Linked DNA regions of Homo sapiens: region 2 is linked to region 1. Evidence: fine-mapped expression QTL. A gene starts in region 1. The other region holds a variant in brackets. All regions are shown on one strand. Distances are between the middles of the regions.

Evidence for each region. PIP is the estimated chance that this variant, and not a neighbour inherited with it, causes the effect.
Region 2: its variant is the best candidate, but not a certain one, in a credible set for the expression of TMEM169 in whole blood (TOPMed, PIP 0.66).

The regions. Positions count from the first base shown.
Region 1 is chr2:216,073,513-216,089,442 of GRCh38, reverse strand. It overlaps TMEM169 (transmembrane protein 169), which reads right to left and starts at 7,524. Exons shown (of 3, transcript NM_001142311.2): 1 at 7,464-7,524. It overlaps PECR (peroxisomal trans-2-enoyl-CoA reductase), which reads left to right and starts at 7,634. Exons shown (of 8, transcript NM_018441.6): 1 at 7,634-7,825. The coding sequence starts at 7,702. RefSeq lists enhancers at 4,679-4,748, 7,873-7,922, 7,953-8,032 and a silencer at 7,423-7,682.
Region 2 is chr2:216,153,047-216,161,046 of GRCh38, reverse strand. XRCC5 (X-ray repair cross complementing 5) reads right to left here. Exons shown (of 21, transcript NM_021141.4): 15 at 886-979. It also overlaps the pseudogene POLHP1. Among named protein-coding and RNA genes, the nearest start is that of XRCC5, 48 kb to the right of the region's middle. RefSeq lists an enhancer at 3,611-4,810. The variant A/G (reference allele first, on the strand shown) is at 3,820.

The DNA of each region.
Region 1 (15,930 bases):
AATTAAAAATAGAAGTAGTCAAGTGGTAGTAGCTGCAGTGAACAGCTGATGGTTTTTGGTTTTTTGGTTCTGTTGTTTGCTGTCCAAAACCCTATTTCTCCTTCATTTGATGACAGATCCACTCATTTTGGTGAGAAACAGTCTTGAAAGTCCCTGATGTGATCACAGTGACCACTTCACCATTCTTATTCTCCTTGTCACACCAAAGCTGTTGATTCCACTAATTCCCAAATCTTTCTTGAACCTTCCCTCACCTCCTTTAACTTTCTACTCTCATTCTCTTTTACCTCTCAAACCTTCCTTCTGTTTCTTTTGCTCCCTTATCTGCTTTCTCCAACCCATAATTGCCAGTGTTTTCTAGGCCCGATTCTTAATTCATTGTCCTCTATTCTCAACAGCACACTCTGTTCCTCTTGTTAAAATATACAGCCTTCCTGCACACAGCTGTAGGACCACTTCTATGCCAAGAACGCCCAAATGTAGATCTCAAGATTGTATCTCCAATAGCCTGGCGAATATTTTCTAATTGAATTATTTAGCAAAGCATGTTCAAACCAAACTCATCTTTATTTACAGCAGAGAACCTCTCAGTGTTACCGAGAAAAAAGGAGAAGGGGGAAAGGAAAGGAGAAAGGGATAAAGAAGGAAACACCACAACATTTATGGAATTTACCGATTGTGTAATTTGGTAGGTTCTGTGTTGATTATACAGTACATGCATTATCTCACTGAATTACACATTCAAAAAATATTTACGTATTCATTTATTTTTAGAGATGGGGTCTTTCTATGTTGCCCAGGCTTGACTTGAACTCCTAGGCTCAAGCAATCCTCTCACCTCAGCCTCCTGAGTAGCTGGGACTACAGTCATGTGCAACTGTGCCCAGCTTCAGTAAATATTTATTAAGCAACACTATGTGCTATATATTGCATAGTTGTTCTAGGTACAACAATTTTTGTCTGTTTGTTTGTTTGTTTTGAGACGGAGTCTCGCTCTGTCGCCCAAGCTGGAGTGTAGTGGCGTGATCTCAGCCCACTGCAAGCTCCGCCTCCCGGGTTCACGCCATTCTCCTGCCTCAGCCTCTTGAGTAGCTGGGACTACAGGCGCCCACCACCACGCCCGGCTAATTTTTTGTATTTCTTTTTTAGTAGAGACGGGGTTTCACCGTGTTAGCCAGGATGGTCTCGATCTCCTGACCTTGTGATCTGCCCGCCTCGGTCTCCCAAAGTGCTGGGATTACAGGCGTGAGCCACTGCACCCGGCCTGTTTGTTTTTTTTTTTTTTGAGACAGAGTCTCGCTTGGTCACCCAGGCTGGAGTGCAGTTGTGCAATGTCAGCTCACTGCAACCTCAGCCTCCAGGTTCAAGCGATTTTCGTGCCTCTGCCTCCTGAGTAGCTGGGACCACAGGCATACACCACCATGTGCAATTAATTTTTGTACTTTTAGTACAGACAGGGTTTCACCATGTTGGCCAGGCTAGTCTCCAACTCCTGACCTCAAGTGATCCATCTGCCTCGGCCTCCCAAAGTGCTGGGATTACAGGTGTGAGCCACCATACCAGCCTAGGTACAACAATTTTATGAAGCAAGTATTATTTTGCAGAAGAGGACACTTGGACTGAATAATAGTAACAACAGAAACTTATTGGATGTTTATTGTGTGCCAAGTGCTGCTCTAAGTACTTTACAATAATCGTATTGTTCAATATTCACAGCAAACCAGTGAAGTAGGTACCTTTATTATTCCCATTTAGAGGAGAAATTTGCTCAAGCTTACATAGCTAGTATAGTGGTGGGACTGGAACTGACACCCAGGTTTGCTAATTTCAAAGCCCATGTTATTTTCATTGTGCCATACTACCCGCCAACATTTATGCAAAGATCTATAAACTTCTAGAATGTTCTTTGATGAACCCATTTCCTATATTAAGGACATATTTCCATATACCTAATAATAATTAGTCTCTAAGTCCTGCTAGTCATTCCTATGAAATCTTTTTGTTAATTTGTTCATTTGAATTTCTACTACCACCATATGCCAGAATACAGCCTTCATACTACTTCCTCTAAACTGGAAGACATTCTAAAATGGAAGACATTCCTCTACCATTTTTTACCATATTAATGGTGATTAATAAACAAAACAAAACAATATTTTTATTTTGTCTTGCCATTACTGACTAAAATATATCTGAAGGCCTGTCTGGTGTTTGAGGCTCTCCGTATTTGCACCCCACCCTAGGATTCAGTAGCAATTTTCCCCTTCCCTTTCCTGCAACGTGACTACTCAACACATGTGCTTATGTTGGTTTCTTCATCTTTGTCACGCTTCTCCACATCTTTCAAGCCTGGCTCAAGACAGACTCATTCGCTCACGTCCCCTTCTGTGACTACCCCAGCCCCCACGTCCTCTCCTCCCACCCTAACCCTGTGTTGCAGGTGTGTGGTGAGAATTCAATGAATGGCCCAGTATAAAATGCCTAATATGTGACTGACACTTCATAAATATTAGTTTCTATTCCCTTTCTTTTGCCTCCTTCTATTTGTAATTTAATAGCATTTGCCATCTGAACCATACACTTAATACTTAATTATGCAGCATTTCATATCATTGTATAGATTATAGATGGCATCATGAGTTTTCATTCATCTTTCTAGGTAGATAACAAACTTCTAGAGTTTAGGAACTGTCTTACTCTTCTTCTTAACCACCAATGGGAAAACCCCAGGGCTGGACATGTAGTACAAAGTCAGTATGTACTTGTTGACTTCATAGGACACAGAAGAGAAAATGTCTTACCAGAAATATGACATAAACAACTGTTAAGAAAGAAAGGCTTGATTCTCTTCCCCATTTTTGTATACTTTATTATGCTGTAAGTATTTGATCTGAGAAGCAGGTTCTAAACATTTCTCCTTCCTTTTAGATTTCACAAGAGAGAGGTTAAAAGAAAATTTTACCCAATTTCCAAGGCTTTAATCAATAGACTTGAGAGAAGAGAGAGGACTTTGTTCTTTTCTCTGGCAGTTAAGCTGTGCCCATCTTCCACTTCCACTTCCAGTCTAAAGATTATTAACAGGCTGGTCACGGTGGCTCATGCCTGTAATTCCAGCACTTAGGGAGGCCGAGGCAGGTGGATCACTTGAGATCAGGAGTTTGAGACCAACTTGGCCAACATGGTGAAACCCCCTCTACTAAAAATACAAAAATTAGCCAGGCATGGTGGCACACACCTGTAATCTCAGCTACTCCGGAGGCTGAGGTAGGAGAATCGCTTGAACCCGGGAGGCAGAGGTTGCAGTGAGCCAAGATCACACCACCGCACTCCAGCCGGGGCAACAGAGTGAGACTCTGCCTCAGAAAAAAAAAAAGATTCTTACAAATGTGATATTACAGAGTGTTAGCTTCAATCAACCATTAGCTCTGTACTCTTGGTCATTGTAGGAGGGAAAACAGGTTTTTAAGAACATGCTCATACTCTGGAACTCGTGCTTAGAATAACTGCTTTTAAGCCACTCTTGAAAAAAATTATCCAGATAATTCTTTTTTTGTTTTTGTTTTTTTTTTTTGAGATGGAGTTTCACTCTTGTTGCCTTGGCTGGAGTGCAATGGCGTGATCTCAGCTCACCACAACTTCTGCCTCCTGGGTTTAAGCGATTCTCCTGCCTCAGCCTTCTGAGAAGCTGGGATTACAGGCATGCACAACCATGCCCAGTTAATTTTGTATTTTTTAGTAGAGAAGGGGTTTCTCCATGTTGGTCAGGCTGGTCTCGAACTCCCAACCTCAGGTGATCCGCCCGCCTTGGCCTCCCAAAGTGCTGGGATTACAGGCGTGAGCCACTGCTCCCGGCCCAGATAATTCTTAAATTCATCCACCCAACTTTCCCATCTCCACTGCTTCCCCTCTGGTCTAGGAGGCCACTGTCTCTTAACTGTGGTTCTAAAAAAAATGCTCCTATCTTCCAGCTTCCACTCTTGCTGCCTTCCAATCAATTCCTCACTCAGCAGTAAGCAACATCTTTTACTTAATTTTTTTAATTTTTTGAGACAGAGTCTCACTCTGTCACCCAGGCTGGACTGCAGTGGCACAATCTCAGCTTCCTGCAACCCCCACCTCCCCCACCTGATTCTCCTACCGAGTAGATGAGATTACAGGCGTGTGCCACCACACCCGGCTAATTTTTGTATTTTTAGTAGAGATGGGGTTTCACCTCCCAAAGTGCTGGGATTCCAGGCATGAGCCACCCAGCCAGAAACATCTTTTTAAAACATAAAGAAAATCAGATGGTCAGGCGTGGCAGCGCGCACCTGTCGTCTCAGCTTCTCGGAAGGCTGAGGCAGGAGAATTGTTTGAACCTGGGAGGCAGAGGCTGCAGTGAGCCGAGATCGCTGCCACTGCACTCCAGCCTGGGATACAGAGCCAGACTCCATGTCAAATAAATAAATAAAAATAAAAAAGAAAATCAGGCTGTTTTCTGCTTAAAATCCTCCTGTAACTTCCTACTGTTATACATGTGGAAGTCCATGTGGCCTAAGGACCTCCCCATCCTGCCACCCCATCTGTACCACCATAGTAGGGGTACTATGCTCCAATCACACTGGCTGTGTATTTCTTCCTCAAGAGCACCAAATGCTTCCAAATGCTTGAGGTCTTCTTAACTGCTGTCTATCTTGCTGCTCTGCTGCTCCACCCCGCCTCTTCCTGTGCCCGTTTTTGTTTTTTTGAGTCCTTGTTCAAATGTTTCCTCCTCTGAGCCCTTCTTGACACCCGAACTAAAAACTTGACTCCCTGCTCTGCCTCTCATTATTCTTTATCACAACAGCTTGTTTCCTGTGTAAGGCTTACCAACATTTGTCATTATTTATTTTTCTTTTACTTATTTATTGCATAGCTCTTCTACTAGACTTCAAGCCCTATGAAGTGGTACCATAGAAGTAGGCCAACAAATAGATGCTCGATAAATCTTTTTAAGTGACTGGGTGAAGTGGTAGCAACTCAGGAGTAGCTTATTTTTTGTGAAAGCCTGAGACTAAGGAGAAGTTTAATAAAAAGACATCAATAAGCTCCTTTATATGCCTTGTTATGGCACAATTGCTAGGTAGTTTTGCTTCAAGGTAGGGGCAGGACCAGATGCTTCACTGACATTCTCTCAGCACTGAGATTCTGGGAGTCTAAATGTCGAGAATCCCACAAGCCCCTGTCAGTCTGAGCTAGCAGCTGCTTTGCAGAGGGGAGAAAATAAAGTTACCAGGCAGATGGGGTGGGGGAGGGGTGGGAAGCTGAAGGCAGTCATTGCTAATGGGGTATGACAGAGCTGTGGGGAGAGGTTCGGGGGTGTGGGAGGACCTTGGCCACAGGAATGCCTTTTTCCCCAGGACAAAGAGGGCAGTGACGCAGAGCACAGGGAAGAGCAGCATTTGATTCAACCAAAGGAGTGGTCAGTGCAGCATGGCGTGGTTGCCTTCGGAAGAGATGCCTCAACCAGAGGCAGAACTAAAATTTCAAAACAAAGAGCTTCCAAGCAGCAGATCTATTGCTCTGCTTCCAGGCCTTTTGGCCTGGAACTTAGCGGATTAGTGGACTTTCAAACCCTGACAGAGGTCAGAGGCAGAGGCAAAGAGATCATGCCTCCTAATTTTAAACAAAAGATCGCTTGAAGAGACCCCAAAGCTCTCTTAATTGCAGGTTCTGCCTGGATCATGAAAAATCGCCTTCTGACTGTTCATCCTGCAACTTCCTTGCAGCTGAGGAATGGCACCTTGTCATCCTCAGTAGGCATAACCGGTTTGCAGGCCCCAGTCCCTGTTTCACTGGAAGACATCAGAATCCCACTCTCAGTCCGCTCAGCAGCCACACGGAAGCTGCAGCACAGCCAGCTTCCCACTGACCCACCCTGGCACACCTCTAAGAATCTATAGGTCCAGACCAGGGCATAAATCATGTTAAGTTATATCTTCAATAAAGTTATCATTTAAAAGAATTTAAAGTGTCCCCACCCACAAGAAAGAAAGTCTGGACTTCTCTTGAATAAGATACCCCTCAGAACTGAATCAATATTTCTTTTCCTTAAAAAAAAACACCTTGTCATTGGGATCAAACCAAGAGGAGTTATATGTTTCTGCAACAACACTTTGAGCTTTCCTGTTTGAATTTACTTTGTTTTAAAGGAGGTGATGGCGTTGTAATTTTAAAAATTTGGTCCTAACTACAGAATTGACTTAAGTAGTAGAGTTAAGTGATTCCTGGATAAACTATCTAGCAAATGGTAACCAGGAGATTTATTCCTTTCTTTAACGAGTGTAGATTTGAATCTGTCAGCAACAAAGATAGAGGGAGAAGTGATTCTAAAAAGAGATCAGAGAAGGACAAGAGGATGGAGCAACAGGGAAGTGTAGCTGTCCAACAAGAACTGCAGCCTCGCTGGTGGGTGGGACCTGGTGGAGGAAGTGATGGTCTGATTCCTCTGTCAACCAGACCCATTTCCAATTGGCTTTGTGAATCCTAGGTGGTAGGTCCAACAAAAGGATGATGGCATTTATTTGCCTTTATATTATTTTAATACCTGTCCGGGGAAAATGCAACACTCTGACAACAGCCTTAGAAATAGCATCCCATCTGGATTGTTAAGACCACAGCAACTGGCACATTCGACCAAGTTCTTAGGGTGAAGTCTCAGTAGGCCAGTCCAGGTGTAATCTCACTCTGGTGGGTTCAGAGCGGGAAGCAAGATGAAAAATAAGGAGCAGATCTGAATAATAAATCACTGTTACTGGGCACCATAACACAGACGAGAAATTTTCCCCATCCTCAGCGGGCTCACCCTCCTGCACAAGGAATGAACTACAGGACATGATCTCAAACACCTACAGATGCATCTTGCAGGAAGCGTGCACCCTTCAAGGAAAGATCCTCTTCTGGACTCGCTATGCAGCTCAGCTGAAATGGATCAGGTCTCAAACCTGGTAAAGATGATCTTTCCCCTTGATTCTTGGGTGGGGAGTGGGAGGTGAGACGGAGGTGGGCCTGAGTTTATTTTTTCAAATCGTTTATTCTCTTGGTTCTGTGGAAAACTGCAACCGCATCTCCTCTTCCCCTTCACTCTCTTTCCCGGGCTCCCTCCCGAAGGATGAAAGGATCTGAAAGCCGCATTTCTCCCCCTCAGCTAAGCCTGCCCTTTCTCCCCTTCCCAGCCAGCGGCACACAGCACCTGGAGCCACAGCATCGCCGACGTCCGACCCCGGCAGGCGGGCGCAGCGAGGGCGCCGAGCAGCAGCCTTTCTTTTTCCAGCTGCACTGGAGATTTAATTTTAATTAATCGTGAGAGCTTCAGCCCTGAGGATTGAATTTTTGAAATAGAGCACACCCTGCTTGTTTCTTTCTTCTTCTTTTTTTTTTTTTGCATTTCCCTTCCACCCTCCCCAATGGCATCGAAATTTAAAGAAACGAACGAGCAGTCTCACCCACACCTGCCCAGGGACCGACGCTGGCGGAGGTTGCGGACAGCCGGCGGGGAGCGGTTCTGCTCCGGGAGGATGCGGCTTTGCCGCGGCCGGCGGGCGGGGCGGGGCCGGGCCGGGGAGGGTGCGGGGTTCTGGTGGTCACGTGGGCTCGAGCACCGCCCTGTCCGCCCGCCCGCCTCGAATGTCCCTGAGACCCAGAAGGGCCTGCGCTCAGCTGCTCTGGCACCCCGCTGCAGGGATGGCCTCCTGGGCTAAGGGCAGGAGCTACCTGGCGCCTGGTTTGCTGCAGGGCCAAGTGGCCATCGTCACCGGCGGGGCCACGGGCATCGGAAAAGCCATCGTGAAGGAGCTCCTGGAGCTGGGTACGTGAGCGGGCCGCTGGTGCAGAGAGGTGGCTGTGGTGACCTGGGGTAACCTGGAGACGGGAGCCAGGAGCTCTCGGCGGGGCTGAGGGAGTGTGGAGCTGCAGAGCAAAGACGGGGCAGGTGTGGGCGAAATTACGACCACCAGGGAGACAGAAGAGAGCAGCTCTTCCTAAGGAATTGTGGAGCCACTCGTTAAAAACTGAAGAGACCACTCAGGCCAAAGAGACTGTGCCCCAGGTAGGCAGTAAGAAGAGCAGTGAAACATGCTGTGCAATTAGTTTTATATTCAGATTTAAAATTAATCCATTCTATATGCTTAATGTGAGTGATTAGGAAACGTGGGAAGACTTCATTTAACTGGAAAAAGTTGTGAACATAGTGAGTCTCTCATAGTATCTTCTCACATCTCTTAACCACAGCAAGGAAATATGCTGAATATTTACCTTAACTTGGGTGAAGGAAGGCCTTTGTAAACACATAAGTGAGGGAATAAACCACAAAGGAGAACATAAATCAATCTACCTGTATGAAAGTGTAAATCCTCATTGAATTAAAAAAATATATAAAGTTTAAAGGCATATGAAGAAAAATATTTGCAACATAAGATAAATTGTTTGTTGGTTTTGAGATAGGGTCTCACTCTGTTGCCTACGCTGGTCTCGAACACCTGGGTTCAAGGGATCCTCCTGCCTTGCCTCTGAGTCCTAAAGTTTTGGGATTACAGGCTGAGCCACTAGATTCGGCCAACAGCCTTATACATAAAGAGCTCTTACAAATAAAGAAAAAATCCAACACACTGATAGAAAAATTAGACTAATGGTATGGACTAAGCGTTCCAAAAGAAGAACTACAGACAGGCAAGAAACATATGAAAAAATAATCAACTTTATTGGTAATAAAATATGAAACAGTAAGATTTAACTTTTCTAACAAAATTTTGAAATGTTGGGAAAAATTAAAGTGTTGATGCAGGAATGAGAAGGCAGGAATGTAAATTATTACAAACTTTCTGGAAGGCAATTTGGAAAAAAAGATCCAAAAACCTTCACAATGTTTATGCTCTATGACAGTAATTCCTTTTTCAGGAATTTAAGGAAACGGAGTCAAGCAAAGATTTTCATGCAAGGATGTAGTCTTGAGTAGTGAAAAAATGGAAATTACCTAAAAATCCAATATAAGGAAAATAGTTAAATCAATAACAATGAAATATAATGCTTCCGTTTAAATATCTTGCTATTGGTCCTGGCGCAGTGGCTCACGCCTGTAATTCCAGCACTTTGAGAGGCCGAGGCGGGCAGATAACCTGAGGTCAGGAGTTTGAGACCAGCCTGGCCAACATGGTGAAACTCCATTTCTACTAAAAATACAAACCAGGCATGGTGGCGTACACCTGTAGTCCCAGCTACTTGGGAGGTTGAGGCGCAAGAATCGCTTGAACCTGGGAGGCAGAGGTTGCAATGAGCTGACGTCAAGCCACTGCACTCCAGCCTGGGCAACAGAGCGAGATTCCATCTCAATAAATAAATAAATATCTTGCTATTGAAGACTTACTTGGAGAAATGCATACCATATTATTGGGAAAAGTAGAATTCTAAACCTAATAGCATTCCAATTTTACTTTTTTTTTTTTTTTGAGATGGAGTTTCGCTCTTGTTGCCCAGGCTGGAGTGCAGTGGCGCCATCTTGGCTCACTGCAACCTCCGCCTCCTGGGTTCAAGCGATTCTCCTGCCTCAGCCTCCCGAGTAGTTGGGATTACAGGCACGCACTACCTTGCTAGGCTAATTTTGTATTTTTAGTAGAGATGGGGTTTCTATATGTTGGTCAGGCTGGTCTCCAACTCCCGACCTCAGGTGATCCGCCCGCCTCGGCCTCCCAAAGTACTGGGATTACAGGCGTAAGCCACCGTGCCCGGCCCAATTTTACTTTTAATAAAATATATACATGCAGGGCCGGGCACGGTGGCTCATGCCTGTAATCCCAGCACTTTGGGAGGCCGAGGCGGGCAGAGCACAAGGTCAAGAGTTCGAGACTAGCCTGGGAAAACATGGTGAAACCTCGTCTCTACTAAGAATACAAAAATTAGCCAGGCATGGTGGCGTGTGCCTGTAATCCCAGCTACTCAGGAGGCTGAGGCAGGAGAATGGCGTGAACCCGGGAGGCAGAGGTTTCAGTGAGCCAAGATCGTGCCGCTGCACTCCAGCCTGGGCGACAGAGCAAGACTCAGTATCAAAAAAAAAAAAAAGTATTACATATGCAAAAATGGACTGGAAGGAAGTTTATAAGATTTTTAGCCATTTTTCTGAAAATAATGTTAATTATGAGTAATTAAAATTGTCTTCGTCTTTTAAATATTTTTTAATGAACATCTAAATTATCTTTGGTTACGACTGTGTTTCCAACATCTGGCACAGTATGAACTAAAAAAAAAAAATCTATGTTTTTAGTTAAAAAAAAAAAAAAAAGCAAAAACATTTCCTAGTAAGGCCATGATGTAACCTCATCACCATTACTGCCCAGTTTATTCTCAACACCAAGCTCTATCCTCTTTCAGGAATATCTGTAAGAAAATCAGAATCAGTTATCAATTCATGCATAGGTCAGATACTAGGCTTCTCAGCAGATTCGTAGGACCCTAGTCCACTTTGAAGGATTTTTAATAGATTTTTATGTATTTGAACTTTCATCCTGTTGCATAAGTGTGCTATTTGAACTTTCATCCTGTTGCATAAGTGTGCTATTTGAACTTTCATCCTGTTGCATAAATATGCATTGGCCAAAAACTACACCCCTGGAATAAGGTGATAGACTATATTTTTCTTACCACAAACTAAAACATTAGGACATTGGTCTTGTAATCTTTTGGAAGACATGAATCTGTCTGAGATTCTGATGAAAGTGGTGGCGTGTCTTTTGAGAAAAAGACATCATATACTTAAAAATATATATACACAATTATTTTGTTGTATTGGAAATGGATTTCCTTCAGTGAAAGAATATTAAAAATCTTTTTCTTTTTTTTTTTTTTTGAGATGGAGTTTCGCTCTGTCGCCCAGGCTGGAGTACAGTGGCGCAATCTCGGCTCACTGCAACCTCCACCTCCCAGGTTCAAGCAATTCTCTGCCTCAGCCTCCTGAGCAGTATTTTTAATAGAGACGGGGTTTTACCACGTTGGCCAGGCTGGTCTTGAACTCCTGACCTTATGATCCATCCCCCTTGACCTCCCAAAGTGCTGTGAGCCACCGGGCCTGGCCATAAAAATCATTTTTATAATTACTTTTTCCTCTTTATTTTTTTATGCCAGAATCAATGGCTATTTCCACGACATTGTCATATTTTTACTAGAGATGGGGTTTTGGCATGTTGGCCAGGCTGGTCTTGAACTCGGACCTCCAGTGATCTGCCCGCCTCAGCCTCCCTAAGTGCTAGGATTACAGGCATGGAGGCCCCGCGCCTAGCCTCCAGTTTTCTTTCTAGTCAGAAGGCCACTGTTTTTTGTTTTTGGTTTTGGTTTTTTGGTGTGAACTATGTCTTTTTGGCATGAACTTTGAGGCATGGTTTTTAAAATGATGATATTTTTGCTTTTTTTTTTTTTTAACGAAAAATACAGGTGTTTTCTTTTTTACTTCATACTATGCCAGATGGTAACCAAAGATAATTTAGATGTTCATTAAAAAATATTTAAAAGACGAAGACAATTTTAATTACTCATAATTAACATTATTTTCAGAAAAATGGCTAAAAATCTTACAAACTTCCTTCCAGTCCATTTTTGCATGTATAATCCATATTTTTTTTTTTTTTTTTTTTGAGACGGAGTCTTGCTCTGTAGCCCAGGCTGGAGTACAGTGGCACGATCTTGGCTCACTGCAACCTCTGCCTCCCAGGTTCAAGCGATTCTTCTGCCTCAGCCTCCTGAGTAGCTGGGATTACAGGCACATGCCACCATGCCTGGCTAATTTTTGTATTCTTAGTAGAGACAAGGTTTCACCATGTTTGCCCAGGCTAGTCTCGAACTCTTGACCTTGTGCTCTGCCCGCCTCAGCCTCCCAAAGTGCTGGGATTACAGGCGTGAGCCACTGCACCCGGCCCTGCATGTATTTTTTTTTGAGATGGAGGTCTTGCTCTGTCACCCAGGCTGGAGTGCGGTGGCGCGATCTTGGCTCACTGCAAGCTCCGCCTCCCGGGTTCAAGCCATTCTCCTGCCTCAGCCTCCCTAGTAGCTGGGACTACAGGCACCCACCACCACACCCGGCTAAGTTTTTGTATTTTTAGTAGAGACGGGGGTTTCACCGTGTTAGCCAGGATGGTCTCGATCTCTTGACCTTGTGCTCCGCCTGCCTTGGCCTCCCAAAGTGCTGGGATTACAGGCGTGAGCCTCGGCACCCCGGCAAATATTTTTTATTAAAAGTAAAATTGGGCCAGGCGCGGTGGCTCATGCCTGTAATCCCAGCACTTTGGGAGGCCGAGGTGGGCGGCCACCTGAGGTTGGGAGTTCGAGATCAGCCTGACCAACATATAGAAACCCCATCTCTACTAAAAATACAAAATTAGCCAGGCGAGGTGGTGCGTGCGTGTAATCCCAATTACTCGGAGGCTGAGGCAGGAGAATCGCTGAACCCGGGAGGCAGAGGTTGCAGTGAGCTGAGATGGTGCCATTGCACTCCAGCCTGGGCAACAAGAGCGAAACTCCATCTCAAAAAAAAAAAAAAAAGTAAAATTGGAATGCTGTTAGGTTTAGAATTCTATTTTTCCCAATAATATGGTATGCATTTCTCCAAGTAAGTCTTCAATAGCAAGATATTTATTTATTTATTGAGATGGAATCTTGCTTTGTTGCCCAGGCTGGAGTGCAGTGGCTTGACAGCAGCTCACTGCAACCTCTGCCTCCCAGGTTCAAGTGATTCTTGTGCCTCAGCCTGCCACGTAGCTGGGACTACAGGTGTGTGCCACCATGCCTGGCTAATTTTTGTGTTTTTAGTAGAGATGGAGTTTTACTATGTTGGCCAGGCTGGTCTCGAACTCCTGACCTCAAGTTATCTGCCGGCCTCGGCCTCCCAAAGTGCTGGAATTACAGGCGTGAGCCACTGCACCAGGAACAATAGCAAGATATTTAAATGGAAGCATGTATATTTCATTGTTATTGATTTAACTATTTCCCTCATATTGAATTTTTAGGTAATTTCCATTTTTTCACTTCTCAAGACTACATCCTTGCATGAAAATCTTTGCTTGACTCTGTTTCCAAACATTGTGGCACATGTGGTGGCATGGCACATGCTTGTAGTCCCAGCTACTTGGGAGGCTGACACATGAGAATTGCTTGAACTCTGAAGGCGGAGGTTGCAGTGAGCCGAGATCACGCCACTGCAATCTGGCCTGGGTGACAGAGTGAGATTCCATCTCAAAAGAAAAGAGAAGAAAAAAATTGGCTAACATTTTCTTTTTTGCTCAATTTGGGTTTATATAACAATGTCTTTCACTTCCACAGGATTTTGACTTTTCCTTTTTCTGAGAGGACACAGAAAGCTTTAGCTCACAAAAGCAGGATATTGTAGGCAGAATTAGATCTCCTTTATACCTTTGACAGGTGCTGTTAGGCAGAGAGAAACCTGATTTCATCAAGGAAAACCTAGCATCGTCAAGTTGAATTCATATCAGATGTTTTTTTATCTTCAAGTTAATCATTCACTTTCTGTTACTACAGTAGAACATAAATTAGGTATAGTAGATAAAATGCAATTAGGAAATGCCGGTGGAAATTATGACCCAAGACAACATTTTTTCTTGCTCTAGTCTAGTCTAACTAGCCTGTTACCAACACCAGGGACCAAGAAGGTGCTGAATAAATGTAGTATTCTGAGTTGAAGATGGAAAGGGATCAGTATCAGCCTAAGCAGGAACGCAGCATACTGGGGCTACAAGCCTCTGATGTTGAAAGAACTCCTTATCCACAAGCTACTTCTATACCTATTCTAAGCAGGTCAGTTGAGCTTTCTGCATCTCTCTAGCTACATATAAACAAAAATAAAGTCTATTGAAATGATTTAGCATGAAAGGCAAGGATTATATATAATATTTTTCTAGTTTATTATAAGGTAGCATAAGAGGTTTGCAATAAATTAAAACAGTATAGAAGTGTATAAAAGAAAAAAATGAGCTTTACCCATTCTGCCCTTTTTCTAAATTCCCTTCCTGGTGATTTTCTACAAATTTAATGTGCACATGTATACACACGTATATATATTTTGTTTTCTACAAAATTGGGATCACAGTATTCTTACTGCTCTGTAATGGTTTTTTTTCCTACTTAAATATCTTGTTTTTTCTTTGTTTTGTTTTGTTTTTTAGAGACAGGATCTTGCTCTGTCACCCAGGCTAGAGTACAGTAGTGTCATCATAGCTCACTGCAGCCTCGAACTCCTGTCTGAAATGATTCTCCTGCCTCAACCTCCCAAGTATCTAAACTATAGGCATGTGCCACAATGTTTGGCAATAAAAAAATTTTTTTAGAGACAAGGTCTCATCCAGGATGGTCTTGAACTCACCACAAGCGACTCTCCAACCTTAGCCTCCCAAATTGCTGGGATTACAAGCATGAGTCACCATGCCTGGCCCATATCTTGTGTTTTTCAATGGTAGTATTGTAGTCATATCTCATTCATTTTAAAGCTGCATAGTATTCCATTGTGTGGGTCTGTAATAACTTATTTAACCATTTCCTGAATGGCCATTTAGGTTTTTATTTTACCCAGCATTGCATTGTTTTTCCCTGTAATATGTTTGCACCCTAGTTCAAGTTTGTCTATAGTGGAAAGTTCTAGCAGTGAAAGTAAATGGACTTGTAAAGTTGTATTTCAGTGCATCTTTACTTGTAGTAGACAACTGTCCTGAAGTCTTGAGGTTTCAGATAGTAACTAGTTATAATTTAGTAAACTTCTATTTAGATAATCCATGTGAATCATCCTATTTATATTCTCAACATATTTTTTACTCGAGGTCTTGGACAAAGTTAGGCATTAATCACCTTGGTGTTCTTGTTTTCTCTCTCTCTCTCTTCCTTCCTTCCTTCCTTTCTTCCTTCCTTCCTTCCTTCCTTCCTTCCTTCCTTCCTTCCTTCCTTTTTTTCTTTCTTTCTCTCTCTCTTTCTTTCTTTTCTTTCTTTTCTTTCTTTTTCTTTCTTTCTTGACACAGTCTCACTCTGTCACCCAGGCACAATCTTGCCTCACTGCAACCTCTGCCCCCAGGTTCAAGCAATTCTCGTGGCTTAGTCTCCTGAGTAGCTGGGATTACAGGCGTGTGCCTCCATGCTCAGCTAATTTTTTTGTATTTTTAGTAGAGGTGGGGTTTCACCATGATGCCCAGGCTGGTCTTGAAGTCCTGAATACAAGCGATCCACCGGCCTTGGCCTCCCAAAGTGTTGGGATTACAGGCATGAGCCACTGCACCCAGCCTAGGTAAAGTTTTTCATCCCTGCCCTATAGAGCCTATGCCCTACTCTGGGAACTAGAGCAAAAAATGTGTATGTTGAAGGCAGAAATATCAAAGAAAGAAGTGGGTGGAGGAAGTGGTGGCTTGTCCTGGGGTGCTTATTTCTCTCCTTTCCATCTCACTGATAAGCTCAGCTATTTCTCCTAAGTGACAGAAACCTAACTGAGTGTTGGATTAGTCTAGAAGTATATACAGTCATGTGTCACTTAACACAGGGAAATCTTCTGAGAAATACATCCTTAAGTGATTTCATCATAGTGTGAACATCATAGAGTGGTAGGCAAACCTAGATGGTATAGCCTACTATATACATGGTTTATATGGTCAATAGCCTATTGCTTCTAGGCTCCAAACCTGTACGGGAGGTTACTATGCTGAAGGCTGCAGGAAATAGTAACACAAAGGTAAATATCTGTGGTCTAAACATATCTAAACATACAAAAGATATAATAAAAATATGGTATTTTTATTATAAAATTATATAAAAACATACAAAAGATATAATAAAAATAAAAGATATAGTAAAAATATGGTATAAAATATAAAAAATGGTACACCTGTATAGAGCACTGTATAGGACACAGGAGCTTACGGGACTGGAAGTTGCTCTGGG
Region 2 (8,000 bases), 76 kb before region 1:
ATTTTTAAGATTTGTTGATTCACACTAATGCTGCTTAGAACAAGGCACTATTTGGCTGGGTGCAGTGACTCATGACTATAATCCCAGTGCTTCGGGAGGCTGAAGCGGGAGGATTGCTTGAGCCCAGGAGTAACATACTGAGACCCCACCTCTATGAAAAATAGCCGGGTATGGTGGCATGTACCCTTAGTCCTAGCTACACAGGAGGCTGAGGCAGGAGGACCACTTGAGCTCAGGATTTCAAGGCTGCAGTGAGCTAAAATCACACTACTGTACTCCGGCGTGGGTGACAGTGACAACCTATCTCTAAAATTAAATAAAATATTCTTCCTCCTGGCTGACCAAGATATAAAAATTAATTAATTAATTAATTAATTAATTAAGGTAGTATTTTCAAGTTCCAAAAAATTTCTCATTCAATAAAAATCTCATGTATCAAAGGATACATTCTTGGGGAAATCCTAAACTTGTGAATCCTGTTCTAAAGTTGCATGTTAGAAAATAGGAAAGTTATACTAACTTAAATTGTGTGTACTTGAAGATTAAGGCTCGTATCACTAACCCCCACTTATCCTATCATTTTGACTAGTTGAAAAGCTGCAAAATAATGCCAACAGCAAAATCTCAACACTGAGATGTTCCACGTTCTATAAAGAGCTCTATATACCTTATATCATATAGATAATTCTGTAGGCAATTCATGATAATAATTACTTAAAGAAGTATGGAATGGGTCTTTTTGGCTTCTATAGAGCAAGGACCAGAGAAAGTGATCATGATCTTAACTTGAAAGTGGTAAGAACGGACTAACAAAAATTGATGCACTCTCCCTCAAGCCCCAACCTTCCTGCAAAGGGGGAAGCGCACTTGAAAAGCTTAGCTTACAGAGGTGACACTGCCTTCAGCCAGACTGGAGACGCTGAAGTGGGCTCCCCCTTGCTCAGTCTTTAATTTTTTAGCTGTAGGTCCATCTTCATGGCTAGAAAAGAAAAAAAAAATTTCTCTTAGAACAAACAATACAAAACCAGATTGCTATTGTGAAACTTATTTTCCAAGCACCAAAAAAAAAAAAGAAAAAAGAAGAAGAAGAAAAGAAAAATAATGAAGAAGAAAAAGAAAAGAAAAACAATAGCTACATGTAGTCCTTCTACAAACAAGCTGCCTCCCTTTCCTAGCCACCGGGCTCCTAAGGGCCTAACTTGAGGCAGCCCTGGCTTTGTTTCACAGCAGTATGAGAATCAGAATTAAGCAATCACATCATAAGGTCCTTGGAAAAGATGAAACTGCAAGCACAGATAATGGAAATTTAACATTTAAGTAAGAAATCCATTTACTCTTCAGATATTATTTTCTAGTTCCTGTCTCAGAATTGACAGCTATTAGCTTTCCATGTACACAGAAGACCTTTGTGTCTAACAACCCGTTTTCTCTATCATGTATGTTAGAGCTTTATAAGCCTCTGTTTACAACTGTCAAAACTTACTAGACAATCCTTAATTAACTATGCAAGAGCTTTCCCTCTTAAAGAAGTCGTAAACTATAAAAAAAAAACTTCCCCGAAAACTTTTTAATTTGTTCTTTTATAAACCTAATTCTGTTTTGTGCAATATGCTAACAGTCCAGTAGCATCTGTGTGCTAAGGAAAAGTATATCAAACATCTTGCCTCAAGCAACATGCTGGCTTTAACAGCCTGTCTTAAAGTCAAGAGGAGGTCAAGTTAATTGCAAAAGAGAAGAAAATCAAATCCAAAGACTCTGCCTGTAATCTCCCTTAAGCTGCTGAACATAAAGAAATTAAGATTTTTTTCTCCCAGAGAGAAATGCAATCTAGGGCAAAAGCAGCCATCAGAAATGGCTAAATGATAAGAGAATTAGTAACCAAGATCTAGAAATTTTAAAAATTCATTTATTTTAACATAAAAATTGTATATATTATCATGTACAAAATGTTTTAAAATATGCATTTATTGTGAAATAGCTAAATTAAGCTAATTATCATATGCATTATTTCATTTACTTATTTTATTATGAGAACAGTTAAAATTTCTCAGCAATTTTCAGGACTAGAATTTCTAAATGTGTTGTTTTTTTGCTCAAAGCCTCAACCTTCAGACAATGAGGCTTGAAAATGAAGTTATTTTAAAAATGAAGCAAAAATAAATTTTAAAAATAAAATGAAGCCAAGAGAAAATAAAACATATATGGGCTTCCTCAATTTCAATAATGAATTTCCTCTTAGAGGTAGGTAAAAGAACTAAAGTAATCATCACAGCCATACATCCATGAATTAAAATTTTCACTATTTGGCATCTTTCCCATTCACCACTAAATGTTTTCCCTTTGAGAAGTAGACAAGAGCAAAGTAGAAGACAGAAGGGTGGGAACCAGGAAACATTACAAGGGGTAAGTCACCCAGAACTCTTTTCTTGCAAGTAGAATAAAAAATAAACACACAGCCTTCGTGGAAAAATGAAAGAAAAAAAGGAGAAATCCAAGGTAGAATGAAATTCCATTAGAAGTTGAGTCTGTTTTAAAAAAAAAGGTCAGAGCCAGTCATTTCAATTAACCTTTGCCAGTTCTTCCCAAGAGACAAGCCAACAACATTAAACTACTGAAGAGTTGGAGTCAAAAGACCTGGATTCTAGTCTCGATTTTGCCACTGACTAGCCCTGAAATCTTACACCTTCTTGATGGCGTTCACTGTGTACTAATTTTTATCTATCTAGAGTTTAGAGTCTAGTAAGCTACAAACCTCTCTGAGCTTCAGTCTGCTCCTTAGGAAAGCACTATGATGAAAACTACCATCAGTATATCAACTATTCTCTTCCACAAATACAGATTAGCTTATATAGTAGTATTAAGAAGGATTACACATAAAAAGCTAAGTTGTGGGGGAATATGAAGTTGAATCACATGAAGAATTTCTTCAACCCTCCAAAATGAGGTTCTAGGGAAAGAAGGGTAAACAGACACATACACAATTTTCCCGTACCAGGCAAGTAAAAGTAGCCCCAGTCATATGCACAACACAGTAAAATTTAGTATGGTTAATATTCTCCAGGCCAAATCATTTAACAGCATTATTAGGAATTTTGCATACACTAAATTCATAATCTCTATGTGAAGTGGGAAAGGGTAATGACTCTCTTCCCTAAATTATCTATGAAGGCGCTAAGCTCTAGAAAGTAGAAATTTATACACACAAGATCACAGTAGACATATAAATGTCAGCAGTTGGTGCATCTGGATGATGAGACCATGGGTAATTTGTTCTTTCTCCTTTCTTATTTTCTTTCACAAACATGTATGAATTTTGCAATTCACTTATTTAGCCTAATATTTACTGAATATGTACTATATATCAGCCACTAAGCTAGACTCTAAACTCTCAATATACAAAAATTAATATACCATCAACACCTTCAGCCAAATAAAAATTGAAGTATACATATAGACAATTAACAAAATACTGTGATAGGCCTATCTCTTTCAGAGGATAGAAAATAGTTGTATTGGCCGGGCGTGGTGGCTCATGCCTGTAATCCCAGCACTTCGGGAGGCTGAGGCAGGCGGATCACGAGGTCAGGAGATCGAGATCATCCTGGCTAACACGGTGAAACCCCACCTCTATTAAAAGTACAAAACATTAGCCGGGCATGGTGGCGGGCACCTGTAGTCCCAGCTACTCGAAAGGCTGAGGCAGGAGAATGGCGTGAACCCGGGAGGCAGAGCTTGCAGTGAGCCACAATGGCGCCACTGCACTCCAGCCTGGGTGACAGAGTGACACTCCGTCTCAAAAAACAACAACAAAAAAAAAAC[A/G]AAAAAAAAAGAAAATAGTTGTATTGGGTTAAAGCATAAGGTGCAAAAGCTGGGACGTAGTGAGAGAAGGAGCTAGAAAACACATTAATTAGGAGCATTAAAAAACGTGAGGAAAGAAAATGGTTTTCTCTAGGCAGCGTGCGTGCTGTCTGTCCTCAGTCTGGTGGCTTTGTTGCTGGGCACACTGCTCTCGGCTGATCCCTGCTGAACTGTGGGGACGGTCGCCTGGGCAGGATCCTTCACGACCCCTTCTCTGTTCCTCTGTCATCACGGGGAATAAATCTCTCGAAACTCTCCCCAGAAAGGCGAAAAGATATTCAAAAGCCCTTCTTCCATTTTCCTTCCAGTGGGCACCGAGCCCAGCATTTGCGGCACCCACTGCTGGCAGTCTGGCCAGGTGTCTGTTACCTTGAAAAATGGCTACTGGACAGGATTGTGTGGTTACTCTCATGGACATAGACTTTGTTCCAATGGAGCAGCGGCAAAATCCTCATTTGAGGAATAAATCTTGTGCAGCTGTGTAGTACAAATCATGGAAGGTGGTAGAATAATTGCAGTGAGTTATGAAGCTCTTGCATTTGGGGTCACTATATGTAGGCAGATGATGCAAAGAAGTTAAGTCCAGGTCTTCTACTGGCACAAGTTCGTGAGTACCATGGGAAAGCTAACCTCACCAAGTACCGGGAAGCCAGTGTTGAAGTGATGGAGGAAGTCTTGTTTTGCTGTGATTGAATGCGTCAGCATCGATGAGGCTTATGTAGATCTGACCAGTGCTGTACGATAGAGACTACAAAAGCTACAAGGTCAGCCTATCTCAGCAGACTTGTTGCCAAGCACTTAAATTGAAGGGTTGCCCAAAGACCCCACAACAGCAGAAGAGACTGTTTCAGAAAGGTACCTCCACAGCATCATATTGCTTCTGCTTCCTGCCTTTGGAACCTGCTTTGCTTGGTCATGCTGATTCTCCTTGGAATGACTGAAAGGAAACTTAACCTATGGCCTCAACGAATCACAAGGACTCATATGGAAGGATATACAAATGTTCTTATCTTTCCAGATATATGGATGTTGAAAAGCTGTGAAATCTGTATGAAAGTATATTTTTCTTTAGATATAACTAGGGCAGATTAGTGTTATCAACACAAGGCAGAAGGTTGACTGAGCACTTTGTCATTGGTAGCTTAATTTATATCATTGTAACTTAGTGTCTTCGCTTCTTCGTCTATAAGAAGGGTGAGCTTTTTAAAGGGGGACCTCAGGTATAGGGAATTCAGTCATTCAAAATTTCTAATGACTTCTTAGCACATTATCAAATATGGGCTGTGCCAGGCCCTTCTCGTTGTATTTTAGTACCTTTCCCCTTCATAGTTATTTTCCCACTCCCTCTGCACCCCACTTACCCTCTTGTACCCACCGATATATCAGATACATCTTAGATGTGTATATATTTTTATTAAGTTACACAGTACTGCTTTATGTATGTGCTTTTTAAGTACAAGATGATATAGGCTATTATAGATCTTATTCTTTTTCTTAATTTTCCTTCAGTGGTGACCTTAGAGATCTGTCCATGTGGCTGTTACTTGCAGCATAATCCATGATATGGATCTACCATGTTTACAGACCATTTTCCCCTAGTGACGAGTACACTGGTTGCTTCTAATGTCCTACTGTAACAGTTTACATTCCCCCTTAGCAGTACACAGAAGTTCCTGTTTCTCCCATATTCTCACCAACAACTGGTATCATCTAATGTTTAAAAATATTTGCCAATGTTTTTTTTTGCTTTGATTTACATTTCTGATTACTAATTGAGATTGAAGATCTCTTCATACACTTGTAAGCCAGCTGAGTTTCTGCTCCTGTGATTTGCTTTTTTATAATCTTTGACCATTTTTCCATGGAAAAATTGAAAAATTATTTTTTGATTTGCCAAGAGGTCCTTGTATATCCTAATTATTAGTTCCTTGTCTTTTTTTTTTTTTTTTTTTGAGATGGGAGTCTCACTATGTTGCCCAAGCTGGAGTGCAGTGGCTATTCACAGGTGTAATAATGGCTCACTGCCACCTTGAACCCTGGGCTCAAATGATCCTCCTGCCTCAGCCTCCAGAGTAGCTGGGACTACAGGTGTGTGCCATCATGCCTAGCTAATTTTTATATTTTTTGTAGAGATGAGGTCTCACTATGTTGCCCAGGCTTTTATATATTTTTTTATTTTCTACTTGGTTATTGATGTGTTGTGAAATGATAAATGGTTTTTTTTAATAAGTTCATTTTTATTTACTTTAAAAAAAGAAAATGGTTTTCTCTAGATAGTTGGATTATGAATAGATGCCTCTTTTCTTTCTGCTTATCTGGATTCTCTTATCTGTGTAAAAGAGTTTGACCTTATGCTGGGGATAATGGGAGGCCATTAGAGCAAGCGTTTTTTAATTGGGGGTCCAAAGATGACATCAAGGAATCTGTGAACTACCAGAAATTATATCCAAACTTCAAAACTTAGTATGTTAAAGCATTTTTCTGGGAAGACAGTTCATAGATTTTGTATCAAGTGAGTTCACTGCACTCTCTGTCTTTCACACATGATTAAGAATCACTACTTTTAAGAATTTTAAGCAAGACAGTGATGGGATCAGGTTTGTTTTTTAAACTCACTCAGGTAGCAGCATGAATTGGAAAGGGGTAAGACAAATTAGGGAAATTAGTGAAGAGCTTATGTCAGTGAGGCAGGCTAAAATGAGAAGGCCTACATAAAAGCAGTGGCAGTGGGCGATGCTATTAAGAGCTTACGTTTCTTTTTAATGCTTACCATGTGCTAGTCACTATGTTACACACATTTAAATTATCTCAGTTAAATTTTGCAACAACCCTATGAGTTAGCTATTATCAGCATCCTTTTACAGATGAGCAAACTAAGCCTGAAGAAAGTTTGATCCCTTGTTTAAAGCACACAGTAAAGGGAAAGAACTAATCCTGTACTCACCCATTCTCCTAACCAACCTCCTGGAAGGCAGGCATTTGTTATTGCCACTTGACACTGAGCAACTTGCCAATTTCAACTGCTTTTAAGGGGAAATGCTTGAGTTTAGCTCCAAATTCGACCCCAAAATCAATGCCATTAGCCACCAGACTAACCTTAAGTGAAAGCGTTAGATTTGAGGTAAATATAATACAACTTGGTAAACCAATTACATATAGAATGTAAAAGAAAAGGAAGACTCCCAAGAAATTAGGTGTCATTCACTGAAATAGAGAATAATAGCATGAAGAGGGGTTGGAAAGGAGCAGGAAGAAGAAAGCAGATAACAAAGCCATTTCTGGCTTACTGAACTGGAGGGGCCTACAGGCACCTAAGCTATTTAGTTGATGGGATAGAAATCCGAGCTGAAGATAGGTATTTAGTAGTTTTTGAGGCTCTGAAATAAAAAAGAGGTCTTGGGACATGCATTGCTAAGGCAAAGTGGCATTACAGTTTGAAGTACAAGCTCTGGAGTCAGACTGCCTACACTTAAATCCTTACTCCAACACCTACCAACTACAATCTTGGGCAAGTTTCTCATCTTCTCTAATCCTGAGTCTCCTGAGCTTTAAGTTGGGGGTCAACAGAAGAATCTACTTCATAGGATGGCAACGTGGGTCCAAACAGATAATGTGTGTAAAGCACTTAGCATCATGTAAAGCACTTAACATATTAAGTTTTGAAGTCTGAATGTAATTTCAGGTAGTTCACAGATTCCTTGATATCAATCTTTGGAACCCTGATTAAAAACCCTTGCTTTAATGGCTTCCCATTATCTTCAGCATAAGGTTCAATAAATGTTTGCTGTTTCTGAGGACAAATTCTACAGAATATCAACACAAAAACACACAAAAGCAGCCCCCACAGGAATCTGAGAGGGAGCTGCCAAAGATTGAAAAAGAAAAATTTGGAGAAGCTGAAGTTAAGACAGATACATGAGTCTCAAGAAAGCAGGAATAACTGACAGTGTCAAGTGCTTCAAAGAGGTCAAGAAAGCAAAGAACCACAAAGCCGAAGTGAATTTAGCAGTTAGTGTCTTTTGAAAGATGAGTTTCAAGGATGTGGTGGGGGCAAAAGCTGGTGAGAATGAGAGCTGAGAAAGGTTGCAGAATAGACTATTCTTCCAAGAGCCTGGCTTCTGGAAGGAAAGATAATAATTAGA